Regions from separate parts of the Homo sapiens genome. Here regions 2 and 3 are each linked to region 1. The links come from fine-mapping of genetic effects on gene expression. A gene starts in region 1. Each other region holds a variant in brackets. All regions are shown on one strand. Distances are from middle to middle.

Region 1 (8,173 bases):
CCACAAAACTATGCTGTATGACATGTAATGGGGGGTAGCTGACATTATACATTTGTCAAAACCTATAAGAATGCACAAGGCACTGGGCGTGGTGGCTCACGCCCGTAATCCCAACACTTTGGAAGGCTGATGCCAGTGGATCACCTAAGTTTAGGAGTTTGAAACCAGCCTGGCCAACAGGGTGAAACCCCATCTCTGCTTAAAATACAAAACTTAGCCAGGCGTGGTGGTGCCTGCCTGTAATCCCAGCTACTTGGGAGGCTGAGGCAGGAGAATGGCTGGAACCCAGAAGGCGGAGGTTGTAGTAAGCCAAGATTGCACCATTGCACTCCATCCTGGGCGAAGAAGCCAGGCTCCATCTCAAAAAAAAAAAAAAAAAAGCACAAGGCAGAATGAACCCTTATGGAAATAATGATGGACTTTGGTTAATAATAATGTATCGGGCCCGCCGTGGTGGCTCACGCCTGTAATCCCAGCACTTTGGGAGGCCAAGGCAGGAGGATCATGAGGTCAGGTGATCAAGACCATCCTGGCTAACACGGTGAAACCCCCGTCTCTACTGAAAATACAAAAAATTAGCCGGGCATGGTGGCGGGCACCTGTAGTTCCAGCTACTCAGGAGGCTGAGGCGGGAGAATGGCGTGGATCCGGGAGGTGGAGCTTGCAGTGAGCCGAGCCCAGCTAATTTGAGGTCTCAAAAAAAAAAAAAGTATCAATATTGTTTCATCGATTGTAACAAATGTATCACATTAATGCAAAATGTTTATAATAGAGGAGTGTGTGTGTGTGTGTGTGTGTGTGTGTGTGTGTGTGTGTGTGGAGGAGTATATGAGAAGTCTACTTTCTCTTCAACTTTTCAATAAACCTAAAACTGATGGAAAAATAGTCTATAATTAAATGAGGCCAGTAAGGATGCACTCAAACTGCTAACATTAGGACTGAAAGCTGAACAAGGCAATCACAGTCCTGCCCCCTGGGGAGGTGGGAAGCTAAAAGTTCCTGTATTGTTTAATTTTTTTGTTTTTGAGACAGAGTCTTGCTCTTGTTGCCCAGGCTGGAATGCAATGGCATGATTTTGGCTCACCGCAGCCTCTGCCTCCTGGGTTCAAGTGATTCTCCTGCCTCACCTTCCCAAGTAGCTGGGATTACAGGCAGCTACCACCACAACCAGCTACTTTTGTATTTTTAATAGAGATGGGGTTTCTCTGTATTGGTCAGGCTGGTCTCGAACTCCCGACCTCAGGTGATCCACCCACCTTGGCCTCCCAAAGTGCTGGGATTACAGGCGTGAGCCACCACCCCAGCTGAATTTTTTTTTGGGGGGGGAGGGGTTTGCTCTTGTAGCCCAGGCTGGAGTGCAATGGCATGACCTCAGCTGACTGCATCCTCTGCCTCCTAGGTTCAAATGATTCTCCTGCCTCAGGCTCCCGAGCAGCTGAGATTGCAGGCCCATGCCCACCACGCCTGGCTAATTTTGTATTTTTAGTAGAGACTGGGTTTCTCCATGTTGGTCAGGCTGGTCTCAAACTCCTGACCTCAGGTGATCCACCCACCTCATCCTTCCAAAGTGCTGGGATTACAGGCGTGAGCCACCATGCCTGGCCTGAATTTTTATAATGAACATAATAGTGGCAAAAACATTGTTTCTGGTTTTCAATATTTGACTGGGGTTTAGGGAAGAGTCCACCAAGGGGGACATAGCTTGTTTTTTTAGGTGGGGGTCTCCGTCACCCAGGCAAGAGTACAGTGGTTTGATCATGGCTCACTGCAGCCTAGACCTCCTGGGCTCAAGCCATCCTCCCGCCTCAGCCTCTCATGGTGATCATACGGATTTGAGTCACAGCAGCTGGCTTAATATCTTTAAAAATGCATTTTAAATAATGAAAGTACTGCTCCTTTGATCAGCTTATGCTAATTTGTGTGACCAGCAACGTTGCATCTCGGAAGTCAAGGATGTGGCTGGGGGTGGGGCGGGGGGTTCTGGGGCCTACACGTTACATCTAGTGGTCATCAGTTCTTGGGGCTCGGGGAGCCTTTGGGACGTCCTCTTGAGATCACAGGGAGTGGAGACAGGACTGGGAAGTGACACACCTCACCCATGAAAGACCTGCCAGAGATGAGTTTGATCCCCAGCTTGGGGGCGTCCAGTGGTGAAGTGGGAAGAGGAGTGACATGGGTACTGGTGAGCACTGCATGATGATGCTACACAGTTTGGAGGCAGAGAAGAATCACCCCAAAGACTAATATTTAAACACTTTAAATTATTTTATTTTATATTTTAAGATGGAGTCTCGCTCTGTCACCCAGGCTGGAGTGCAGTGGCACGATCTCGGCTCACTGCAACCTCCACGTACCAGGTTCAAGTGATTCTCCTTCCTCAGCCTCCTGGGTAGCTGGGATTACAGGCACCAGCCATTATGCCCGGCTAAGTTTTTTTTTTTTTTTTTTTTTTTTGGGACGGAGTGTTGCTCTGTCGCCCAGGCTGGAGTGCAATGGCACGATCTCGGCTCACCGCAAGCTCAGCCTCCCGGGTTCACGCCATTCTCCTGCCTCGGCCGCCCGAGTAGCTGGGATTACAGGCGCCCGCCACCATGCCCAGCTAATTTTTTTGTAGTTTTAGTAGAGATGGGGTTTCACCGTGTTAGGCAGGATGGTCTCAATCTCCTGACCTCGTGATCCTCCCGCCTTGGCCTCCCAAAGTGCTGGAATTACAGGAGTGAGCCACCGCGCCTGCCCTATTTTATTTTATTTTTGAGATGGAATCTTGCTCTGCTGGCCAGGCTGGAGTGCAGTGGTGCAATCTCGGCTCACTGCAACCTCCGCCTCCCAAGCTCAAGCGATTCTCCTGTTTCAGCCTCCCGAGTATCTGGGATTACAGGTACTTGCCACCATGCCCGGCTAGTTTTTGTATTATTATTATTTTGAGACGGAGTCTTGCTCTTGTCACCCAAGCTGCAGTGCAGTTACATGATCTCTTCTCACTGCAACCTCCCTCTCCCAAGTTCAAGTAATTTTCCTGCCTCAGTCTCCGAGTAGCTGGGAGTACAGGCGCCCGCCACCACGCCCGGGTAATTTTTGTATTTTTAGTAGAGACATGATTTCGCCACGTTGGCCAGGCTGGTCTCAAATTCCTGCCCTCAAGTGATCCGCCCGCCTCGGCCTCCCAAAGTGTTGGGATTACAGGCGTGAGCCACCGTGCCGAGTCTGAAACATATTTTAATTATGTTTCTCCAGTATTTTTTTTTTCTTAAAATTTTCTTTTTTTTTTTTGAAGACAGAGTCTTGCTCTGTCGCCCAGGCTGGAGTGCAGACGCGATCTCAGCTCACTACAACCTCCGCCTCCCGGGCTCAGCCTCCGGAGTAGCTGGGACTACAGGCGTGCGCCACCACGCTTGGCTAATTTTTTTTTTTTTTTGTATTTTTAGTAGAGTCGGGGTTTCAACACGTTGGCCAGGCTGGTCTCAAATTCCTGCCCTCAAGTGATCCGCCCGCCTCGGCCTCCCAAAGTGATGGGATTACAGGCGTGCGCCAGCGCGCCGGCCTTCTCCAGTATTTTTGCATGCATCTTACGGCACACCTTTGCACGCCATCTTATTAACTATATCATACTGCCGCACGTGCCTTTTCGGCCAAGGCATCCAGATGGTGCGGGTCCTGCCTGCCTCGAGAGGTGGCAGCAAAGGAGCCAGTGCCCTCACTGGTGCTGGGCGGGGCGGCCGCTTTCCTCGGAGGGAAGGGGCGGCGTTGGCGGGGGAAGGGCGCCAGGGCCCAGGCCCTGAGGGAGGGGCAGCTCGCCCGGGCCACGCGGTGCCGGCCCTCGGCTCAGGCCGGGCTGAGGCCCCGGGGGCTCGGGGTCCGGGGGAAAGGCGCTGAGCCAGACAGGTCCCAAGGAGCCTTCGGGAAGGGAGGGCCTCGTGGCGGCCTGTCCGGGACCCGGCCGGGAGCAGGGGTCGCGTGGGCGCCGTCAGGACGGGCGTGAGGTCCCCGGGACCACGTGTTTGCGTTTGGTGGCCCAGGGGTCGCTGACAGGTGCGGAGGGGAGACGCCCACCTGGGTGCCCTGGGCCGCACGCCGGGCGGTGGGGCCGGGAACCCCTGCTCCTCCTCGGCCTCCGATCCGCTGCGGCCCTGGGTCCTGCTCGCTGCCCGACGCCGCTGCCACAACCTCCGCCCGGGCCCCGCAGCCCGCCGCCCGCCGGAAGCTGAAAGGCGTGTCCGACCCCGCCCCCGGGCGCGACCAATCAGCGCGCGCGACTCATGAATAGTGAGCGCGCTGGCACCGCCCCGCCCCCGCCTCCCGCGGCACCGCCCGCCCGCGCAGACCCCGAGCGCGGCCGCGGACGAAGATGGCGACCGCCATGTACTTGGAGCACTATCTGGACAGTAAGCGCGCCCCACGGGCCCCGCGCCCGCCGCCCACGCGGAGTCCTCCGTGCCGCAGCCCCCCGCGCGCCGGGCACCGCATGCAGACCCCGTGGGCTCGGGAGGGCGGCGGGCGCGGCCGGGCGCGACGGGGGGCGCGCGGACGGGGCGGGGCAGGGCCGCAAGGGAGGGGAGGGCGCGGGGGGCGGGCGCGGGGGGTCCCGCCGGCTGGGTCGCGCCAATTCCAGGTGCGTCACGGCGGGGCGGGGCCTGGCGATGCTGGGCGGGGCTTGCGGCCTCGACCCCGCCCACATATTAGGTCCCGCCCCTACCCAGGCCCCGCCTCATCTCCGCCCCCAGCTCCGGCCCCGGCCCCGCCAGGTCCCGCCCGTCCCTGTCCCGTCTGCAGGAGGAGCTGGCGCCCGCTGCGGGGCTCCGGGCCTTGGGGGCTCCGGGGTCTGGGCCTCCGCCTGGCTGTGCGCCCGTGTGCGCCGGCCTCTTGTGTGACCGCGGCTGGGGAGGGCGTGCGGGCCGCGGGGCGTCTCTCCCCGGCACTGGGGACTGCGGCGCGGAGGCGGGGAGGGCGGTGCCGAGTCGGCCCTGGTGGGCGGGCTGTGCTGTTTCCAGGTGGCAGCAGGTCGGCGCCCCCAGCGGCTGAGCGGACGGTGCTTTCCCTCACTTTACACACCAGGGAAGGTCCAGCGCTGCCGAGCAGCCTGCTCAGGGTCTCCCGCTCGTAGAGGGGCAGACCCCACGCGGGACCCCTGACGTCGGCCCGGGATGGGCACAGCTTTGGGGTCGCGGTGTTTGGGGTTGTGCCGGGTGGCTCTGGAGGGCCCTTGTGGGGGCGCTGCACTGGGGATCCTCATGGTCTTCGGCCTGGCACCCGCCCAGGGGCTGAGACAGTGGCGAGTGAGCCGTGGCCTGGAGCTGGAGACCGCTGCCCTAGAGGGACGCCCGATTCTGCCCATGTGCTCCGCTGTCTCTTGGGGGTCTGAGTAGTGGGGGGTTCCCTGGGTAGAAGAGTCAAGCTGGGGAGCACGCTGGAGGGGAGGCCTTCTCTATCCTGGTGCCCAGCCAGTGGGCTGGCCTCCCAAGGAGGGTTGACTTTGTGTGTGTCTGGGAGGCTGTGCCAGCCGGGAGGCTGTGCCTCTGTCCTCTAGGGGAGCTGGGAAAACACTGGGGCTGGAAGCATCAGATGCATAAGATAGAGTTAGGTTTAAAATGATTGCCTGGTAACTGTGAACAGCAGATGGGAGGGTGGCCAAGACTGGAGGAGGCAGCCCCCCTTAGGAGCCTGTGTCAGCTGTGCAGGGGGCGGAGGTTGGCCTGGTCTAGGGGGTAACAAAGCAGACGCGAAAGCAGCACGGGGGTCCTCCTGGCAGACTGTGGGGAATGGTTGCGCTAGCCACAGGGACTATTTAAGTAAAATTAAAAATTGAATGGCGTTAGTCCCATTTCCAGTGCTCAGTAGCTCCCTATGGCCACCACTGTCTTGGGCAGCTCAGAGAGAACATTTCTTTTCTTTTTCTTTTTTTGATTTTTTTTGAAATGGAGTCTCACCCTGTTGCCCAGGTTGGAGGGTATGATCTCAGCACACTGCAACCTCCACCTCCCAGGTTCAAGCAATTCTCATGCCCTAGCCTCTCGAGTAGCTGGGACTGTAGCTGTGCACCACCACGCCTGGATAATTTTTGTATTTTTAGTAGAGACAGGGTTTCACCATGTTGGCCAGGCTGGTCTTGAACTCCTGACCTCAACTGATTTGCCTGTCTTGATCTCCCAAAGTGCTGGGATTACAGGTATGAGCCACCACGCCCATCCGAGAGAGGAAACATTTCTATCCTTGCATAAAGTCGCGTGGGCAGCGTGGCTACACTGCTCAATGCACTGGATTTCTGGGTAAAGTAGGGGAAGATCAAGGAGGACCCAGGGGATTTTGGCTTGAGCCTTGGAAGATGCTGCTCACTGAGGGGGGGCAGCCTAGAGGGTGGGGTCAGTTGGCCTCCCCTGCCTGTGCTGTTGGTTTCCAAGTTTCCCTCTCCCTTCTTTGACTTCTGACAGCTTCCGAAGTGTGCACACAGCCTCTTGTCAGCACTGTTTGGTACCTGCATCTAAAAATGAGATCACAGTCCTTCCGCTCCGCAAACCCTGACAGAGACAGAATACAGAGTGGGCTTGTAGACTTGAAGTATAAAACTTTTGGCCAGTCCTGGTGGCTCACACCTGTAATCCCAGCACTTTGAGAGGCCGAGGTGGGCGGATCACCTGAGGTCAGGAGTTCGAGACAAGCCTGGCCAACCTTGTGAAACCCCGTCTCAACTAAAAATACAAAAACTAGCCGGGCATGGTGGCATGTGCCTGTAATCCCAGCTACTCAGGAGGCGGAGGCGTGAGAATCACTTGAACCTGGGAGGTGTAGGTTGCAGTGAGCCAAGATCGCACCACTGCACTCCAGCCTGGGCAACAAGAGTGAAACTCCATCTCAAAAAAAAAAGACAGAAAACCTTTGGAGGTGAATTTTTGTCTTGCTGCTGAGAGGTACATGGCTTCTGTGTTTTTGCGTTTCAGGTATCGAGAACCTTCCCTGCGAACTTCAGAGGAACTTCCAGCTGATGCGAGAGCTGGACCAGAGGACGGAAGGTGGGTTCAGACCTCTCCATACAACCAGAACTGAGTTCTGACAGGTGGGAGCCAGCAGCTCCTGAAGGCTGGGGGCAGAGGGTTTTGAGGGGACCCAGGTTAGTGGGGCATTGGCCTAGCCCTGGGCCGTGGGTATCACTCAGTGTCTTGCAGTAGGTGTTGATACTTTTGAAGCCACATTGTTTCTTGGGTTCTTACACATCTTTATATCATGTTTTTATAACCATCACCCTTTCCAATCAAAATATTTATTGCCAATTTTTTCTTTTAAATATTTTCAATTTTCAAAGTGTGTAGTGCGTGCATTGTTTTAAAAGTTTGGTAGTACTTTTTGGCCGTTTGATATTTAACTCCGTTTCTTTTTTTTTGAGACGGAGTCTTGCTTTGTCGCCCAGTCCGGAGTGCAGTGACGTGATCTCAGCTCACTGCAAGCTCTGCCTCCTGGGTTCACACCATTCTCTTGCCTCAGCCTCCTGAGTAGCTGGGACTACAGGTGCCCGCCACCACGCCTGGCTAATTTTTTTTTTGTATTTTTAGTAGAGACGGGGTTTCACCGTGTTAGCCAGGATGGTCTTGATCTCCTCACCTCATGATCTGCCCGCCTCAGCCTCCCAAAGTGCTGGGATTACAAGCGTGAGCCACCTCGCCTGGCCCTAACTCTGTTTTTTTCTTTTTTTTTTTTTTTTTTTTTGAGACAGAGTCTCACTCTGTTGCCCAGGCTAGAGTGCAGTGGCACGATCTTGGCTCACTGCAACCTCCACCTCCCGGGTTCAAGTGATTCTCCTGCCTCAGCCTCCCGAGTAGCTGGGACTACAGTCACATGCCACCACACCCAGCTAATTTTTTGTATTTTTAGTAGAGACAGGGTTTCACCATGTTCACCATGTTAGCCAGGATGGTCTTGATCTACTGACCTCATGATCCGCCTGCCTAGGCCTCCCAAAGTGCTGGGATTACAGGCATGAGCCACCGCGCCCGGCCCTTAAACTCCCTGTTTCTAAACAACATGTTTTTGTTGCTGTTTCTTATTTTATCTCTCGTCAGTTTTAGACGTTGTTCAGACGTATATGGCACAGGCAGCTGTACTTCTCCAGTGGCCCCCACACCCTCACATGCCCTCACCTGGCTCCCCCATCTCCTGGCTGTAGGTTGTTAGAATTTGTGGTGAG
Region 2 (8,173 bases), 57 kb after region 1:
GCCTGGGCAACATCGGGAGACTTCAAAAAAACAAAAAATTGATGGTGGGGAAATGCGGGAATTTTGGGCGCCGGCCGGATTCCCAGTGGTGGCGAGGAGGTGGTATTTTTTTAAGTGTCAGTGTGGCATTGTGGTTGCCTCAATAAAACAGAGTCTTTTTTTGTCTTTTTTTTTTGAGACAGGGTCTCGCTCTCACCCAGGCTGGAGTGCAGTGACACAGTTGCAGCTCACTGCAGCCTCGACCTCCTGGGCTCAAGCAATCCTCCCGCCTCAGCCTCCCGAGTAGCTGAGTCTACAGGTGCCCACCACCAAACCCAGCTGATTTTTATTGTTTTTAAGAGACGGGGTCTCCCTGTGTGGCTCAGGCTGGTCTGAAACTCCTGGGCTCAAGTGATCCTCCTGCCTCAGCCTCCCAAAGCTCTGGGAATACAGGCGTGAGCCACTGCGCCCGGCCAAGTGTTTCTCTTAGAATTTCCTGAAATGATAGGGTCTCTGGAGGGGCAGGTGCTGGGCTTGAGCCCTGGGTAGGACCCTGCAGGGGAGAGGTGGTCCTGCAGCCCACAGAGGATGGCTCTGTCCTGTTCCTCATGGTGCAGATCTCCACAATGGAAGTTCGAAGCAAGCAAAAGCCACGCAAACCACAGGCCGATCTGTCTGAGCCCTAGGATTTGGCCCGGTTCTGCTTCAGCCACCAGCACCGTCTGCTCCTCCTCAGAATCCTTCCTCCCCCGTGGCCCGCCCGCCGTGTCCCTCCTCCTCCACGGCCCGCCCACCGTGTCCTTCCCTCCCCCGTGGCCCACCCACCATGTCCTTCCCTCCCCTGTGGCCCACCCGCCATGTCCCTGCCTCCCACCCGACATGCCCCTTGAGCTGCCTGGGCCCTGCTGTTGTCCCCACTGCCTGTGTGACTCTGCGCCCCCTTCCCTACCCTGCCCCACCCTGGTTCAGGGAGCGTCCAGGCCCATTCTCATCCTCAGGGCCTTCCCTGGCCCTTGCCACTCTGTGCCGTGTCATGACCTGAAGCTGCAGGTGGGCGCCTCCCCCTTCCGTCATGGCTGTCCCCCTTCTGTGAGGTGTCCCAGCCGCCTGATTGCCGGAGTCCCAGGGTGCTCGGTGCTGTCGTGGAGCCTGGGACATTCACTGTCTGGGATTGATTCCAGGGTTGGAGCCACACCTGGTCTGGGGCATTCGCTGTCCTGGGTCAGAGCCCCTCCTGGTCTGGGACATTCGCTGTCTGGGGTTGGAGCCACACCTGGTCTGGGGCATTTGCTGTCCGGGGTCGGAGCCTCACCTGGTGAAGATACAGAACATGCTGCTGCCCTAACCCCGTGTGGTGTGCCCCCTGTCCCCGGGTGTCGTTCCCATAGCCAGCCCTTGTCTCATCTCGTCTCATCCTCTAGATGCTGTGGGCCCTGAGGGAAAGGATCACAGAGGCGCTGAGCCGGGATGGCTACGTGTACAAGTACGACCTCTCCCTCCCTGTGGAGCGGCTCTACGACATCGTGACTGACCTGCGCGCCCGCCTCGGCCCGCACGCCAAGCACGTGGTGGGCTATGGCCACCTTGGTGAGCGGCGCCCCGGGGCCGCGGCCCTGTGTGTGCTGGGTGGTGGGCCCCACGGTCACCGTCACCCTGCCAGGCTTCGAGGCAGGGCAGTTTGACCATGGTCTCTGGCTTAGCATATCTCCCGTAGACACTGGCAGGACCACGGTGTCTGACAGGGAAGGGAAAATCCTAATCGTTGTCATGACTCGTTTTGAGTATTTTGGAAAAGACTGCCATCGTGCACTTGTAATGGCAGAGCGCATGGCTCAGCTTGTCAGAACGTTCTGGGATCTTCAGTGGCATGCAGGGTTGGAGGGCATCAGCCTTAACCCCGGAGTCCGGGATGCGGGTCTCAGGGGCTCCTCTCACAGGGCCCGGCCCCGAGGCCTTTGCAGTGCTTAGCCCCCAGCTGCTCTACCCCTTCAGATGGGAGGATTTCAAAACCACGTTCAGATCATCTTTTTTCTGCAGAAAAATCATGCTTTAACGTGTAAGCTATTAATTCATAGGAAGAAAATGTTTCAATCCTATCAGTTCTTTTTTTTGAGACGCAGTTTCACTCTTGTCACCCAGGCTGGAGTGCAGTGGCGCAATCTCGGCTCACTGCAACCTCCATCTTCTGGGTTCAAGCAATTCTCCTGCCCCAGCCTCCCGAGTCTCTGGGATTACAGGCGTCCACCACCAGGCCTGGCTAATTTTTGTATTTTTAGTAGAGACAGGGTTTTGCCATGTTGGCCAGGCTGGTCTTGAACTCCTGACCTCTGGTGATCTGCCCACTTCGGCCTCTCAAAGTGCTGGGATTACAGGAGTGAGCCACCGTGCCCAGCTGTTTTCCTGTCAGTTCTTTGGAGCCTTGGAGCGAGGTGTCTAAAAGGCCAGCTTATAGGGCAGGGGTGGGGGCAGTGCTGGGGGTGTGGAGCATGGCTTTGGGGCCTGACAGATATTCACTCTGGCTTCTTCCCTGGCCTGGTGGCACTGGAGTCACTGACCTGAAGCCTCCATCCATCTGCCAGTAAATGGGATTCAGGTGCCACCTCTGTGGTTACAGGAGGGTCTAGGGTTGTGTACGTGACGACAATAACACGTATTACTTACGAAGGTCCCGTGCTGTCCCAGGCATTATTCTAAGCACTTGATGTGGAGAAACTTCTCTGCACAACAGCTTTTAGGACTGGTGGTGTTGCTTCCCTTTTACACACATGTAAACAGGTTCAGAGAATTTAAGTAACTTGCCCAAAGTTGCCCAGCCTGTGGAGGGGTACATCTGGAGGATTTGACATAGGATGGATGGTAATCTTCTGTGATAGGAAGGCAGGACTCCTGAATGGGAAGGGGGTAAGGGCATGATGAGTGTGTCATCATCCAGAGAAGAGGGGTACGGGAGCCCCAGTATTTCAGAATATGGGAAGGGGGTAAGGGCATGATGAGTGTGTCATCATCCAGAGAAGAGGGGTACGGGAGCCCCAATATTTCAGAATATGGGAAGGGGTTAAGGGCATGATGAGTGTGTCATCATCCAGAGAAGAGGGGTACGGGATCCCCAATATTTCAGAATATGACCTCAAGCCAGGAGGAGGCTTCCTCCTCTCCAGGTAACTTCAGTCTCTCTTGGCCACAGATAAAGCAGACCATCTTGGTGAGAAATGGAATGAGCCCTCTGTTACTTTGTAAAAGCAAGAATGGGCCAGGCGCAGTGGTTCATGCCTGTAATCCCAGCACTTTGGGAGGCTGAGGCGGGTGGATCACCTGAGGTCAGGAGTTCGACACCAGCCCGGCCAACATGATGAAACCTCGCCTCTACTAAAAATACAAAAAATTAACTGGGCATGGTGGCAGGCACCTGTAATCCCAGCTACTCGGGAGGCTGAAGCAGGAGAATCACTTGAACCCAGGAGGCGGAGGTTGCAGTGAGCAGAGGTTGCACCATTGCACTCCAGCCTGGGTGACAAGAGTGAAACTCCATCTCAAAAAAAAAAAAAAAAGCAAGAATGAATGTTGAATTTTTAAAATGTGTTTCCTGCATCTGTCATGGTGACCGGGTGCTTGTCTGCCTGTAATCAGTGTGGTAAGTTACACTGATTGATCCCTCTGGAGTCAGATGAGTCTGTGTTTCTGGGGTAGGCCCAAGGTGGCCATGATCCTTTCTGTATCTTGCTGGATGAGTTTGTTTATGTTTGGTGTGGGATTTTGACAGGGGTCTTGGTGGATGATTCTGTTCCACGCTGTTCCTTTCTTCTGTCCATGCTGGATTTTGGTATCAAAATCATAACATGAATATTATGCAGAACTTGCCAGTGGAGCTGTTTGGGCCTGGAGGTTTTTTTGAGGGAGTATTTTAAAATTATAGCTCAGCTTCTTCAATAGCTTTAGGACTTTCAAGCTTTCCTTTCTTCTAGATTGGTATTGCTAATTTTTTCCCATATTGGCATAAAGTTGTTCGAATATTCTTTTGTTGTCTTTTTATGTAGCATTTGTGGGATGCCCCCACACCCTTTTTTTTGGTGGGGACAGGGTCTCGCTGTCACCCAGGCTGGAGTGCAGTGGCTCACCACAGCCTCGACCTTCTGGGATCAAGCAGGCCCGCCACCTCACACACACCAGCAGGCCTGGCTAACTAAAAAAAAATTTTTTTGTAGGCCCGGTGCAGTGGTTCACGCCTATAATCTCAGTACTTCAGGAAGCCAAGGCTGGAAGGATCACTGGAGTCCAGTAGTTCTAGACCAGCCTGGGCAACACAGTGACATCTGATCTATACCGCCCCCCGCCCCACAATATATGTGTGTGTGTGTGTGTGTGTGTGTGTGTGTGTGTGTGTGTGTAGAGCCAGACTCATGTAGAGCCAGTTGTGTGGCCGGACCGGTCTTGAACTCCGGGGCCTCAAGCAAATGCTCCCTCCTTGGCCTCTCAAAGCCAGAGATTACAGGCGTGAGGTACTGTGCCTGGCATTATTTGCTGCTTGCATTATCATTCCTTCTTTGACCGATGAGTTATGCAGAAGTGTGTTTCTTAATTTCCAAACGTGGTGGTTTTCTAGTTATTTTAAAAATTATTGATTTCTTTTTTATTGCATTATACCCAGGAAACTTCGTCCTTATCAGATCAGATTTTTGAAACTTGATCAGTGGCAGCTTATGATCAGCCTTCGTAACTGTGGAGTGCTTGAAAAGAATGTGCTCTCTGCAGTTGCTGGAATCAGTGTTTGTACAGATCCATCAGATAGAAGTATACGTC[G/A]CGTGTTCATTCTACATCCTGCTGACCTGCCACTCCCTGAGGGAGGTGTTAGAAATCTGCTGACAACAGACTAATCTGTTCCTCCTGTAGCTTTGCCAGTTCTGGAGACGTGTTCTTAGGGGCATAGGACATGAGGTTCGTCTCTTTGTTTTGGGAAACTGAATCTCCTAACGCGATGGACTCGCTCTTTATCTCCAGCATTGCCCGCTGCCTTGGTGTCTGCTTTGTTTATTACACAGTGATGCTAACTTTCTTTTATTTAGTGTTTGCCTGATGTGTTGTTTTTCCTCCGGTTAGCTTCAGCTTTTCCATCCTTAGTGATTTAGATGTGTTTCTTGTGGACGCCCCCGGACAGGTTTCTTGCGTACTTGTTTGCCGTCTTGAATGAGAGCGTTTGGCTGCTGAGCACGTGCTGTGGCCCACTGTTTGGATTTGTCTACTTCACCCTGCTCTTTGTCTCTCACTTCTTGTCTATTTTTTCCTCTGTTTTTTGCTCTTCTGGTTTATGTTCTTTGTCATTTAGCTTTTTGCCGTTTACTAACTGTTGGTGGTCGCCCTGGCACCACAGTGGACATTTCTAGCCCTCTGGGTTTGAGGTTAATCAGAGTCACTATCTTCCTCCCAAATAATGTGTGATGGTGAATTCTCTGCGTCCACTTGTCTGGGCCCTGGTACCCTCGTTTGGTCAAACTCCAGTTTGGATGTTTCTGTGAAGATATTTTTTATGTGTGATTAACATTTAAATCAGTAGACGTTGAGTACAGGAGATCTCCCACCACAGTGTGGGTGGGCCTTACCCAATCAGTCGAAGGACTTCGCCACAGCGTGGGTGGGCCTTACCCAGTCGAAGGCCTTCGCCACAGCATGGGTGGGCCTTACCCAATCAGTCGAAGGACTTCGCCACAGCGTGGGTGGGCCTTACCCAATCAGTCGAAGGCCTTTGCTACAGTGTGGGTGGGCCTTACCCAATCAGTCGAAGGACTTCGCCACAGCGTGGGTGGGCCTTACCCAATCAGTCGAAGGCCTTTGCTACAGTGTGGGTGGGCCTTACCCAATCAGTCGAAGGACTTCGCCACAGCGTGGGTGGGCCTTACCCAATCAGTCGAAGGCCTTTGCTACAGTGTGGGTGGGCCTTACCCAATCAGTCGAAGGCCTTTGCCACAGCGTGGGTGGGCCTTACCCAATCAGTCGAAGGCTTTTTGCCACAGCGTGGGTGGGCCTTACGCAATCAGTTGAAGGCTTTTTGCCACAGCGTGGGTGGGCCTTACCCAGTCAAAGGCCTTTGCCACAGCGTGGGTGGGCCTTACCCAATCAGTCAAAGGCCTTTGACACAGCGTGGGTGGGCCTTGCCCAATCAGTCGAAGTCCTTCGCCACAGTGTGGGTGGGCCTTACCCAATCAGTCGAAGTCCTTTGCCACAGTGTGGGTGGGCCTTACCCAATCAGTCGAAGGACTTCGACACAGCGTGGGTGGGCCTTACCCAATCAGTCGAAGGCCACAAGAGCAGAAATCTAAGATCTCTTAAGGAAGAGAGGATTCTGACCCAGATGGAGACTCAAGCTGCAGCACCAGCTCCTGCTGGGATCTCCAGCCTGCTGACCTGGACTTCAGATTTTAGACTTAGCTCCCTCAGTCACATGAGTCAGTTCATTAAAATCAGTGTCTGTCATCTCCCTGTGTCTCAGTGTGTCTCTCCATCTTTCTCTCTCTGTTTGTTTCTCTAAATATGTATAATCTCACTCTTGCTCGCACTGTCTGTACACACACATCCTGCTGGTTCTGCCTCTCTGGGAGCCCTGATGGCTGCACAGTGCGAGGACTTCAGGGCCCCGTCACTTTGGCTGTCGTTTACCCCCCAGTTTATGGTGGCCCCTGTATTTGCGGGCTCCACATCTGCAGATTCAACCATAAAAATAACAATACAACAATAAAAAATAAACAAAAGACGATGTAGTATAACAGTGACAGACACAGCATTTCCGTCGTACCAGGAATCGTAAGTAATCTAGAGGTGATTTAAAGTATACAGGAGGGGCCGGGCACAGTGGCTCACGTCTGTAATCCCAGCAATACGGGAGGCCAAAGCGGGTGGATCACCGGAGGTCAGGAGTTCAATACCAGCCTGGCCAACATGGTGACACCCCATCTCTACTAAAAATACAAAAATTAGCCAGGCATGGTGGCGTGTGCCTGTAATCCCAGCTGCTTGGGAGGCTGAGGCAGGAGAATTGCTTGAATCTGGGAGGCGGAGGTTGCAGTGAGGCGAGGTTGTGCCACTTCACTCCAGCCTGGGCAAAAGAGCGAAACTCCGTCTCAAGAAAGAAAAGTATACAGGAGGATGTGTGTAGTTTATATGCAAATCCTATGCCATTTCCTGTCAGAGACTCGAGCATCTCAGGATTTTGATATCCGAGGGGTCCTGTATCCAGTCCCCCAGGGACACTGAGGGGCACCTGCATGCTGTTCGGTGGTGTATTCTGGTTCTGCCTTGTTCAGTCACACATAACCCTGTCACCATGTCACCATCCTGATTCTGCGTAGCCAGTTTGCACACAGCTTCTGCTTGAATCTCAGCCTCCAGAATTTTCCCTGGCATGGAAAAATAGGTGACGGAACAGCTCAGATTTTCTTTGTCTGGAAATGTACTGATTTAGTTGATAAAAATGTCTTTTCCTCAGTGGATTTCCGTGGTTCTGGGTTGACAGTTGCTTCCCAGCAGCAGGAGGGAGTCTCTGTTCTCTCTTCTGATGTCTGCTGGTGCGGAGACAGCCTCAGTTCAGGGCAGTTCCCTTCGGGGGAATGGAGGGAACAGAGGGAAATAAATAATTTCTTTCTTTTTCTTTTCCTTTTTTTTTTTTTTTTTTTTGAGATGGAGTCCCGCTCTGTCACCCAGGCTGGAGTGCAGTGGTGCGATCTTGGCTCACTGCAACGTCCGCCTCCCGGGTTCAGGCGATTCTCCTGCCTCAGCCTCCCGAGCAGCTGGGATTACAGGCGTGTGCCACCACACCCGGCTAATTTTTGCATTTTTAGTAGAGATGGGGTTTCACCATATTGGCCAGGCTGGTCTCGAACTCCTGACCTCGTGATCCACCCGCCTCAGTCTCCCAAAGTGCTGAGATTGCAGGTGTGAGCCACCGCGCCCAGCCTGCTTTTTCCTTTTTGCTGCTTTCAGCTCCTTCCATTGTCTTTGGGGTTCTGCGGTTTCACTCTGGTTTGGCCGGGAGTCGGCCAGATGAGTGTTTGTTTACCTGCCTGTTGGCCGGGTGAGTGTTTACCTGCCTGGCACTTCTTGGGCTTTGGGGTCTTGCTGGCTTTAGAAATTCCTCAGCCACCAGAGCCTCTTCAAACACCGTTTCTCCCCTTCCTCTGTTCTCCTCTTGGAACTCAGTCCAAGCCCC
Region 3 (8,173 bases), 26 kb after region 1:
TTAGCTGGGCGTGGTGGTGCGTGCCTGTGGTCCCAACTACCTGGGAGGCGGAGGCGGGAGGATGGCTTGAGCCTGGAAGTCCGAGGCTTCAGTGAGCTGAGATCGCGCCACTGCACTCCAGCCTGGGCGAGAGAGCAAGACCCTGTCTCAAATAAATAAATAAAAAGATAAAAACCTGGCTTTGTTTGCCTGTGCTGAAAATCTAAAAATGGATATCTATGTTCTGAAAATGAAATCGGAATGTGCTCTTCTGTGTGGCACTCAGAGGTCATCGTGGCAGCGTGTTTGAAACTCCGGCAGACTCGCCCGAGTTGGTAAGAGCCAGTTATCCTTGGTGTTCGGTGTGAGGACACAGGGAAAGGATGCCGTGTCTCGGAGGCTGGCCGAGCTCACGGTGTCATGTGGCGTCAACACAGGCTGTCCTGTCACAGGGACACATGGCACTGTGGTGCCCCACGCCGTGCGGCTGGGGGATGGTGCACCGAGGGTTTTGAGAAGGGGTACGGAGGCTGTTAGGGCGGAGGGCCCTGGGCAGGCTTGGGCCTGGGCCAGGCGGTGGTTGACGGTTGCCGTCATGCGAGTCGGCTGCCTCCTGCGTGGGGAACCTATGGAATGTCCTCTGTGGTCAGCAGCTGCCTCTGTTCAGGAGCCCCTTGTGCGTGCAGCTCCAGAACTTGCTCAGAGTCACCAGGGAGCACTTGTGAGACGGCAGCTTCCAGGGCCAGTGCAGGGTGCCTGGCTGGGTTTCCGTGGGCCTGAGGGGCTGCCATGCTCTCAACGCGTGCTTGGTACCTGCAGCCCCCACAGACTGCAGACAGAGGGCACCAGCGACCCTGCCATCGGCCGGGGAAGAAGGACCCACCTGTTAAGGAGGAACGCCTGGGTGTCAAATCGGTTTTGCTCATTGATGGTGTATCTGTCAGCTTCAGAACCGGCGTCCTGCATAGAGCCGCACGTGCATCGGCGCATTTTCCCTGCGGGAGGGCCGCGGCCCCACTGCGTGTGCCTCTCCTGGTGCCCTCCTGCCGGCGTCCAGCAGCCCTGGGAGACATGGGGAGGCGGGCCCTGGGCACCCTGCGCGCTGGCGGAAATGGCGCCCAGGGCCTCACTGCGCCTTTCTTGTCACAGGTTCTGTCCACGGTGTGTCCAGGAAAAGAGGAAGAAGAAGTAGGAGGAGCTGTGTGCCCGGATCCGAGGAGCAAGTTAATCTGTCCCTTCATTCGTGTCGCAATATTTCCCTTCCTTTTAAAACTACCTTGTTCGGTTGATACTTAGTAACTCCGTGGCCAGTTGAAGCGCTGGATGTTTCCTAGAACAAGAACCACCAAAGCCTGTTCGCACAGAAGGGCGACCTTGCAGGGACTCGCCGCCGCGACCTCAGTGTGGCTTTTACAGGACTCCCCCCGAGCATCAGCAGGGACCCCGGCGGACGTGGGCGGGCGCGCGTGAGCTCGGGCTGCCCGGCCGGGCGTGCGGGCGGGGACATGGTAACCTGGTCCACGGAGGGCGGCCGCCACCCTCGCGTAGCTTTCCTGTGGTTTTCCAGGACTGTCCGGTACAGCCCGGGCTCCGCGTGCCCCGCCCGCTGGAGCACCTGCCACCGAGGCGCGCGTGGGGCCACTGCCGTGGCGGCGGCTGCCCTCCTCACACTCGGCTCCGCGCCGCCTCCGGCCACCGTGCGCTCCCGCGTGGGGCGCCTCGGATGGGCCCGGGAGGGCTGGGGGCTCTTCCCTGGAGGAAGCGGCCTCCGCTTCGCTGGCGCCGCCTTTTTAGCTTGGACTTCAGTCCTCCCTCGGGGACTCACCTCCGGAGTAAACGGCTCTTCATTAGCTTGGAGTGGCCGCAGGTCCCGTGACCAGCACCCGCGAGACCCTGTGCGACAGCTGGGCTGATGCTCCGTTTCTCTGGGAATTGGTGATTTTTTACTGTGAAGATGAAATTACCCTAATAGCATGAAGATCGTGGGTCTGTGTGTCCGTGAAGTGAGTCCCGTCTGCCAGGAGCTGACGAACCACGAATGCTTCTGCCTGTGCTGTGCATTCCCAGGCCCGCAGCTCCCGGTCGAGGGGACTCCGATGTGAATTTGTTGTGAATTTGTTGTGCCACAATAGCAGTTCTGGAATGAAGCTAGGAAACTCGAGTGTGCTTTTTGTTTAATGAGCGTTCACCAAGCTGAGCCGGAGCCATCCTTTCGGTGGTAGTTGGGGAAGGCTATGCAGATTTGCTCTGTTGTGACGCGTTGGTGACGGTGCCCAGCCTGCGGTTCCCCACAGCATCGCAGGCGCTCGGAAATCCTCTCCCGTGCCTTTAGAGGAAGGAGAGGATTGCTGAGGAATGCAGGGACGCCTGTTTCTGTCCTCACACCACAGAAAGAAACCTGAGGGAAAACTGAGACGTGAGGTTCCTGATTTAAGAAGCCTGGGTTTCTTCATGGTGGGGGGCCATTTGGAATGACAGCCTCACTTCCTTCTGATGGCTACATCTGTATCTTTTCCTCCTGTGTTTAATGTTTCACTAGGGAGAGGAAATAAAGCAGAAGGAACGTGTGAAGCTCTGTGTCTCAGACGGGGCCCTCCCGTCGAGAAGCTGGTAGTCAGTGAGTGAGAACAAGAGAACAAGAACACCCTGAACAGTCCTGGTTGGGATGGTGTCCACATTCATGTTCTGCGGTTCTTGAACACACGGATGCCTCTGGGCCACCTGTCCTTTTCCGAGGGTGTGGGTGGGAGTGGATCCTCCGGGCGCAGGTGCCAGGCAGGTGCAGGCGGGCGGTCGGCCACTGCTGCTGCTCGTCCCTGCCAGTGTCTGGGCCTGAAGGGGCTCCCTCCAAGCGGTGCCTTCCTGCGGCTTAGAAGGGAAAGCGCCAGAGAGGGCAGGCTACAGTGCTTCACACCCTTCGCCACGGCTGTGAAACTGGAGATGGGTGGGTTTTGTATGTTAATTTTTTTTTTTGAGACGGAGTCTTGCTCTGTCACCCAGGCTGGAGAGCAGTGGCGTGATCTCGGCTCACTGCAAGCTCCGCCTCCCGGGTTCACGCCATTCTCCTGCCTCAGCCCCCCCGAGTAGCTGGGACTACAGGCGCCCGCCACCACGCCTGGCTAATTTTTTATATTTTTAGTAGAGACAGGGTTTCACCATGTTAACCAGGATGGTCTCGATCTCCTGACCTCACGATTTGCCCGCCTCGGCTTCCCAGAGTGCTGGGATTACAGGCGTGAGCCACCGCGCCTGGCCACCCAGCTAAGTTTGTATTTTTGTTGGAGACGGGGTTTCACCATATTGGCCAGACTGGTCTCAAACTCCTGGGGTCAAATGATCCGCCTGCGTCGGCTTCCCAGAGTGCTGGGATTACAGGTGTCAGCCACTGCGCTCAGCTGGGAGATGAATTTTCATTTAATGACTTAACTTTTTGTTAGCACAGGTTTTGTGTGTGTGTGTGTGTGTGTGTTTTGTTTTTTGTTTTGTGTTTTTGAAACGGAGTTTTGCTCTGTCACCCAGGCTGGAATGCAATGGCACCATCTTGGCTCACTGCAACCTCTGCTTCCTGGGTTCAAGTGATTCTCTTGCCTTAGCCTCCCGAGCAGCTGGGATTATAGGCGTCCACCACCACGCCCAGCTAATTTTTGTATTTTTAGTAGAAATGGGGTTTCACCATGTGTGGCCAGGCTGGTCTCGAACTCCTGACCTGAAGTGATCCACCCGCCTCGACCTCCCAAAGTGCTGGGATGACAGGCATGAGCCACCGCACCCGGCCAACACAGATGTTTATTGATCGTGGAGGATACATTGTGGAAAATGTTTTTCTCTCTTTTACCATTTTTGGGAAGAGGGATAGGTAAGTGCAGGGAGTTTGTGCTGAAACAGCGCCTGGCAATTTTTCAGAAATGAATTTGATATTGCGCTCCACCTTTGAGCTGTTCACACCTGTGGCTACCCCTGGAAAGCGCTGGGGTTGTTGATGCTTTTGGCTGCCCGGCTTCCTGAGGTCTCGCTGCTTTTTGGGGAAAGATGACTGGCTTCCCTGTGGGACGCTTTTGTCTGACACGTGATGATGTGGTCCTGCCTGCCACTGTGCACCATCCCAGGTATTGAATTTTGACCTTTTCTTTTCAAGTTTCTGTGCTTAGTGTTTTTAATGTTTACTTTTGCCACTTACAATAATATCACCAAAATAATATGCATAGAGTTTTGGAAGAAACATAGAAAACATGAGCAGAATGAGACAATTCCTTGGGCTGTAGTTTGGACCCAACTGAATCCTGAGTGCTCTGTGGCTGACGCTGTCTACCCGTGGGAGAGACACACTCAGGAGTGGCCGTTTGGCCAGAAAAGAAGGTCATGGCCCCTGGCCTGGCCCCCGCCCTGCAGGGACACAGAAGCCACACCATTTGCACCATCCACGCCTTGCTCCAGAAGGCCTGGCCGCCTTCTCCCTGGGGGTGATTCAAGGATTTGGTCTCGGACCAGACCCCCCTCCACAGCTGCCCGGCCCCAGACCCATCTCTTGGATTGAGGGTGTGTGGGCTGGAACCAGTGGGTCACTGTGGCAGCTTCATCTGAGCCGAAGGTGTGGGTCCTCTGTGGCTGTGCGATTGACCTCGATGGGAAGGAGCGTTC[T/G]ACCCATTTTCCTTGTTTTCAGTGCTGCGGTATCAGTCAGTGATCTGAGGAAATCCTGTAGGGGAAGGCAGGCTGCAGTGAAAACAGGAGCTGGTGAAACCGAGCCCTCTGCATCTGCGAATGTGCCCTAGGTGCTGCTGCTGGGGACATGGATGCCAAGCGGAGGCCTGCGTGGCCTCCTGAGCAGCAGCTGACCGCCCGTCTCATGCTGGACGGGACCCCTGGGCGGGTGGACATGAGACCACTGTTGGCCAGGGACGCCGTGCGGAGGCCTACGTGGCTGCCTGAGCAGCAGCTGACCGCCCGTCTCACTGTTGGCCAGGGCTTTGTGGCGTGGGTGTTTTCCAGTCTGCCTGGAGCAGCGAGAAGCAGCTGTGCAGACTGGTGGCGGTGGGAGGGTTTGCTGGGACTGATGGGGACACCGGCCAGCTTGTCTGGTGTCCAGCAGCCCTGCCGGACTTGGCCTCCTGTCCTGTCGTTGGGAGCCCTGGCTGGGGCTGCTTTGAGCAATGACGCTGGCCCAGAGCAGCTTCCCACATGACCCCAGAGCCGAGGGTCTGCCCTGTCCTAGGTTAGGTCTTCATGGTTTAGAGTAAAACCGTGAGGGATGTTAATTATGGGCATTGAAGACTTAAGGTTTTCTTAAATTTTTAGTGAGCAGTGATTGGCCTTCAATACTTGTGCTGAGAGGAATTTTAAGCCAGGGGAAGTGTAAGAAAATGTTCCCATTCAGGAGAGATTGTGTTGGAGTTTCTTTCTTCCTCTGTATGTATTTTGTGGTGTCCACCTTTAACCACGTTTCATCCAAAACGATGATGCAGCTTTAACATGAATGTTACATTTTTATTTTCAAGGAATTATTATCTATGTTCCCTTTGTAAAGGAAAGATAATGTTGTAAATCTTTTTATTAGATAATGTAAAGATGTATATCAGTATTTTTGGATCATGTTATAGATTATGGATATATTGTTTAATAAATAAAGTATTTTTTGGAACAAACAATTGAAAGTGCATCTGTATTAGCCCGTTTTCACGCTGCTGATAAAGACATACCCGAGATTGGGTAATTTGTAAAGAAAAAGAGGTTTTTTTTAAAAAAAATTTTCTTTTCTCTTTTTTTGAGACGGAGTCTTGCTCTGTCACCCAGGCTGGAGTGCAATGGCACTGCATGATTTCGGCTCACTGTAACATCTGCCTCCCGGGTTCAGGTGATTCTCCTGCCTCAGCCTCCTGAGTAGCTGGGACTACAGGCACGTGCCACCACGCCCTGCTAATTTTTGTATTTTTAGTAGAGATGGGGTTTTGCCATGTTGGCCAAGCTGGTCTTGAACTCCTGACCTCAGGTGATCTGCCTGCCTCAGCCTCCCAAAGTGTTGGGATTACAGGCGTGAGCCACCGCACCTGACAGAAAAAGAGGTCTGGTGGACCCTCAGTTCCACATGGCTGGGGAGGCCTCACAATCATGGCGGGAGACGAAAGGCTTATCTTACATGGCAGCAGACAATAGAAAATGAGAGCCAAGTGAAAGGGGTTTCCCCTTAAAAAAACCATCAGATCTCGTGAGACTTATTCACTACCACGAGAAAAGTATGGGGGAACCACCCCCAAGACTCAGCATCATTTTGGGAAACAGGTGTAAAATGTCAGTGTTGTGCCCAGAGACAGGTGTGTGAAATTGAATTCTGAAGGGGTATGCAGTGATTGGAGAGTGGTTTGCGGAGCTTGCTGGCTGGGGGTCTGGGGAGGACCCTGTGCCTTACCTTGGGTGGTTGCTCAGGAAGCTCAGTGGCCAGTGCTGGGGCTCAAGTTGACTTCCAAGGAAGACGTGTGAGAATGCTGCAGTTGCTTTCTTTTTTTTTTGTTTGAGACGGAGTCTCACTCTGTTGCCCAGGCTGGAGTGCAGTGGTGCAATCTCTGCTCACTGCAAGCTCCGCCTCCCAGGTTCACGCCATTCTCCTGCCTGTGTCCCGAGTAGCTGGGACTACAGGCGCCCACCACCATGCCCGGCTAATTGTTTGTATTTTTAGTAGTGACAGGGTTTCACCGTGTTAGCCAGGATGGTCTCGATCTCCTGACCTCGTGATCCGCCTGCCTCGGCCTCCCAAAGTGCTGGGATTACAGGCGTGAGCCACCACGCCCGGCCGCTGCAGTTGCTTTCTAAAGGAGTACTGTGCTTGCTCTGGAAGGGCAAGACTTACCGTGTTGCACTTGCCTTTTGGAAGCTGCTGGAGTCAGCTTAGGCTCTGTATTAGTCCATTCTTGTATTGCTATAAAGAACGACCTGAGACTGTGTAATTTATAAAGAAATGAGGTTTAATTGACTCACAGTTCTGCAGGCTGTACAGGAAGCGTGGTGCGGAGGCCTCAGGAAACTTACATCATGGCAGAAGGCGGAGGGGAAGCAAGCACGTTTTACCACGGCAGACCAGGAGAGAAAGGGAGCAAAGGGGAAAGGTGCCACACTTTTAAACAAGCAGGTCTCCTGAGAGTTCACTTACCTCCACAAGAACAGCAAGGGGAAATCTGCGCCCATGAGCCAGTCACCTCCTACCAGGCCCCTCCCCCAACATTGGGGATTATGGGCGGGGACACAAATCCAAACCATATCAGGCTGTTATCACAATACCACAGACTGGGAGGCTTAAGAAAAATGTCTTATATTTCTGGAGATTGGAAGTCCAAGATTAAGGCGCTGGGGTTGTCTGGTGCCTGTCCAGGGCTCTTCCCTTGGGTTGTGAACACTGCCTTCTCATGTGTGCCTACGAAACTGACTGGGAGAGGGAGCTCTCTGGTGTCTCTTATTTTACGGATGCCTGTCCTGTCGGATCAGGACCCCACCCTTGTGACTGACTTTAACCTTAATTACTTCTTCAGAAGTTCCATCTCCAAATACGGCCATATTGGGGGTTACAGCTTCTGCATACGAATTCTGGGGGACACAAACATAACAGGAGCTGATGGGTCTCAAGATGTTGCCTTGAGGAGTGCATTAACAGAACCCGGGAAGAGCTTGGTCATCACGAGGTACAGTCGGCCTCTCACCCACCGTCCAGGTGAAAACCAATCCGTAGACTGGAGTCCTCGCTGGAAGAGGAGGCTGAGATGCTGGGGGAAGGCCCCACAACGCCGAAACCAGCACCTGCCATCTCGCTGGAAGAGGAGGCTGAGATGCTGGGGGAAGGCCTCACAATGCGGAAACCAGCACCTGCCATCTCGCTGGAAGAGGAGGCTGAGATGCTGGGTGAGGGCCCCACAACGCTGAAACCAGCACATGCCGTATTTTCCTCCAAGCATTCTCTGAGGGTACATGTGGGCTTTGCTAGGGTGACTATGCCCTGGGAAAAAGAAAAATCAGTTGTTATTATTTTCTGAGACAGTTTTTTTTTTTTTTTTTTGAGACAGAATCTCACTCTGTCGCCAGGCTGGAGTGCAGTGGCGTGATCTCAGCTTACTGCAACCTCTGCCTCCCAGGTTCAAGCCATTCTCTTGCCTCAGTCTCCCAAGTAGCTGGGATTATAGGCACCGACCACCATGCCCAGCTAATTTTTGTATTG

Which allele goes with the higher level. Alleles are on the strand shown, and positions count from the first base shown. SD is a standard deviation of normalised expression in the study named. Not every link is listed here.
With allele G in place of T in region 3, the expression in thyroid of the gene that starts at base 4,319 in region 1 is lower (moderate effect, 0.49 SD a copy in GTEx).

The links. PIP is the estimated chance that this variant, and not a neighbour inherited with it, causes the effect.
Region 2: its variant is fine-mapped to the expression of ING5 in whole blood (TOPMed, PIP above 0.99).
Region 3: its variant is fine-mapped to the expression of ING5 in thyroid (GTEx, PIP above 0.99). The same link has a PIP of 0.9 or more in pituitary.

What each region holds. Positions count from the first base shown.
Region 1 is chr2:241,697,721-241,705,893 of GRCh38, forward strand. ING5 (inhibitor of growth family member 5) reads left to right here and starts at 4,319. Exons shown (of 8, transcript NM_032329.6): 1 at 4,319-4,382; 2 at 6,933-7,004. The coding sequence starts at 4,346. RefSeq lists silencers at 3,613-4,432, 4,175-4,338, 4,523-5,082 and enhancers at 3,737-4,569, 4,808-5,437.
Region 2 is chr2:241,754,449-241,762,621 of GRCh38, forward strand. D2HGDH (D-2-hydroxyglutarate dehydrogenase) reads left to right here. Exons shown (of 10, transcript NM_152783.5): 9 at 1,401-1,566. Among named protein-coding and RNA genes, the nearest start is that of GAL3ST2, 18 kb to the right of the region's middle. RefSeq lists a silencer at 6,272-6,472. The variant G/A (reference allele first, on the strand shown) is at 4,777.
Region 3 is chr2:241,723,861-241,732,033 of GRCh38, forward strand. ING5 (inhibitor of growth family member 5) reads left to right here. Exons shown (of 8, transcript NM_032329.6): 8 at 1,129-5,618. The coding sequence ends at 1,171. Among named protein-coding and RNA genes, the nearest start is that of D2HGDH, 6.7 kb to the right of the region's middle. The variant T/G (reference allele first, on the strand shown) is at 4,618.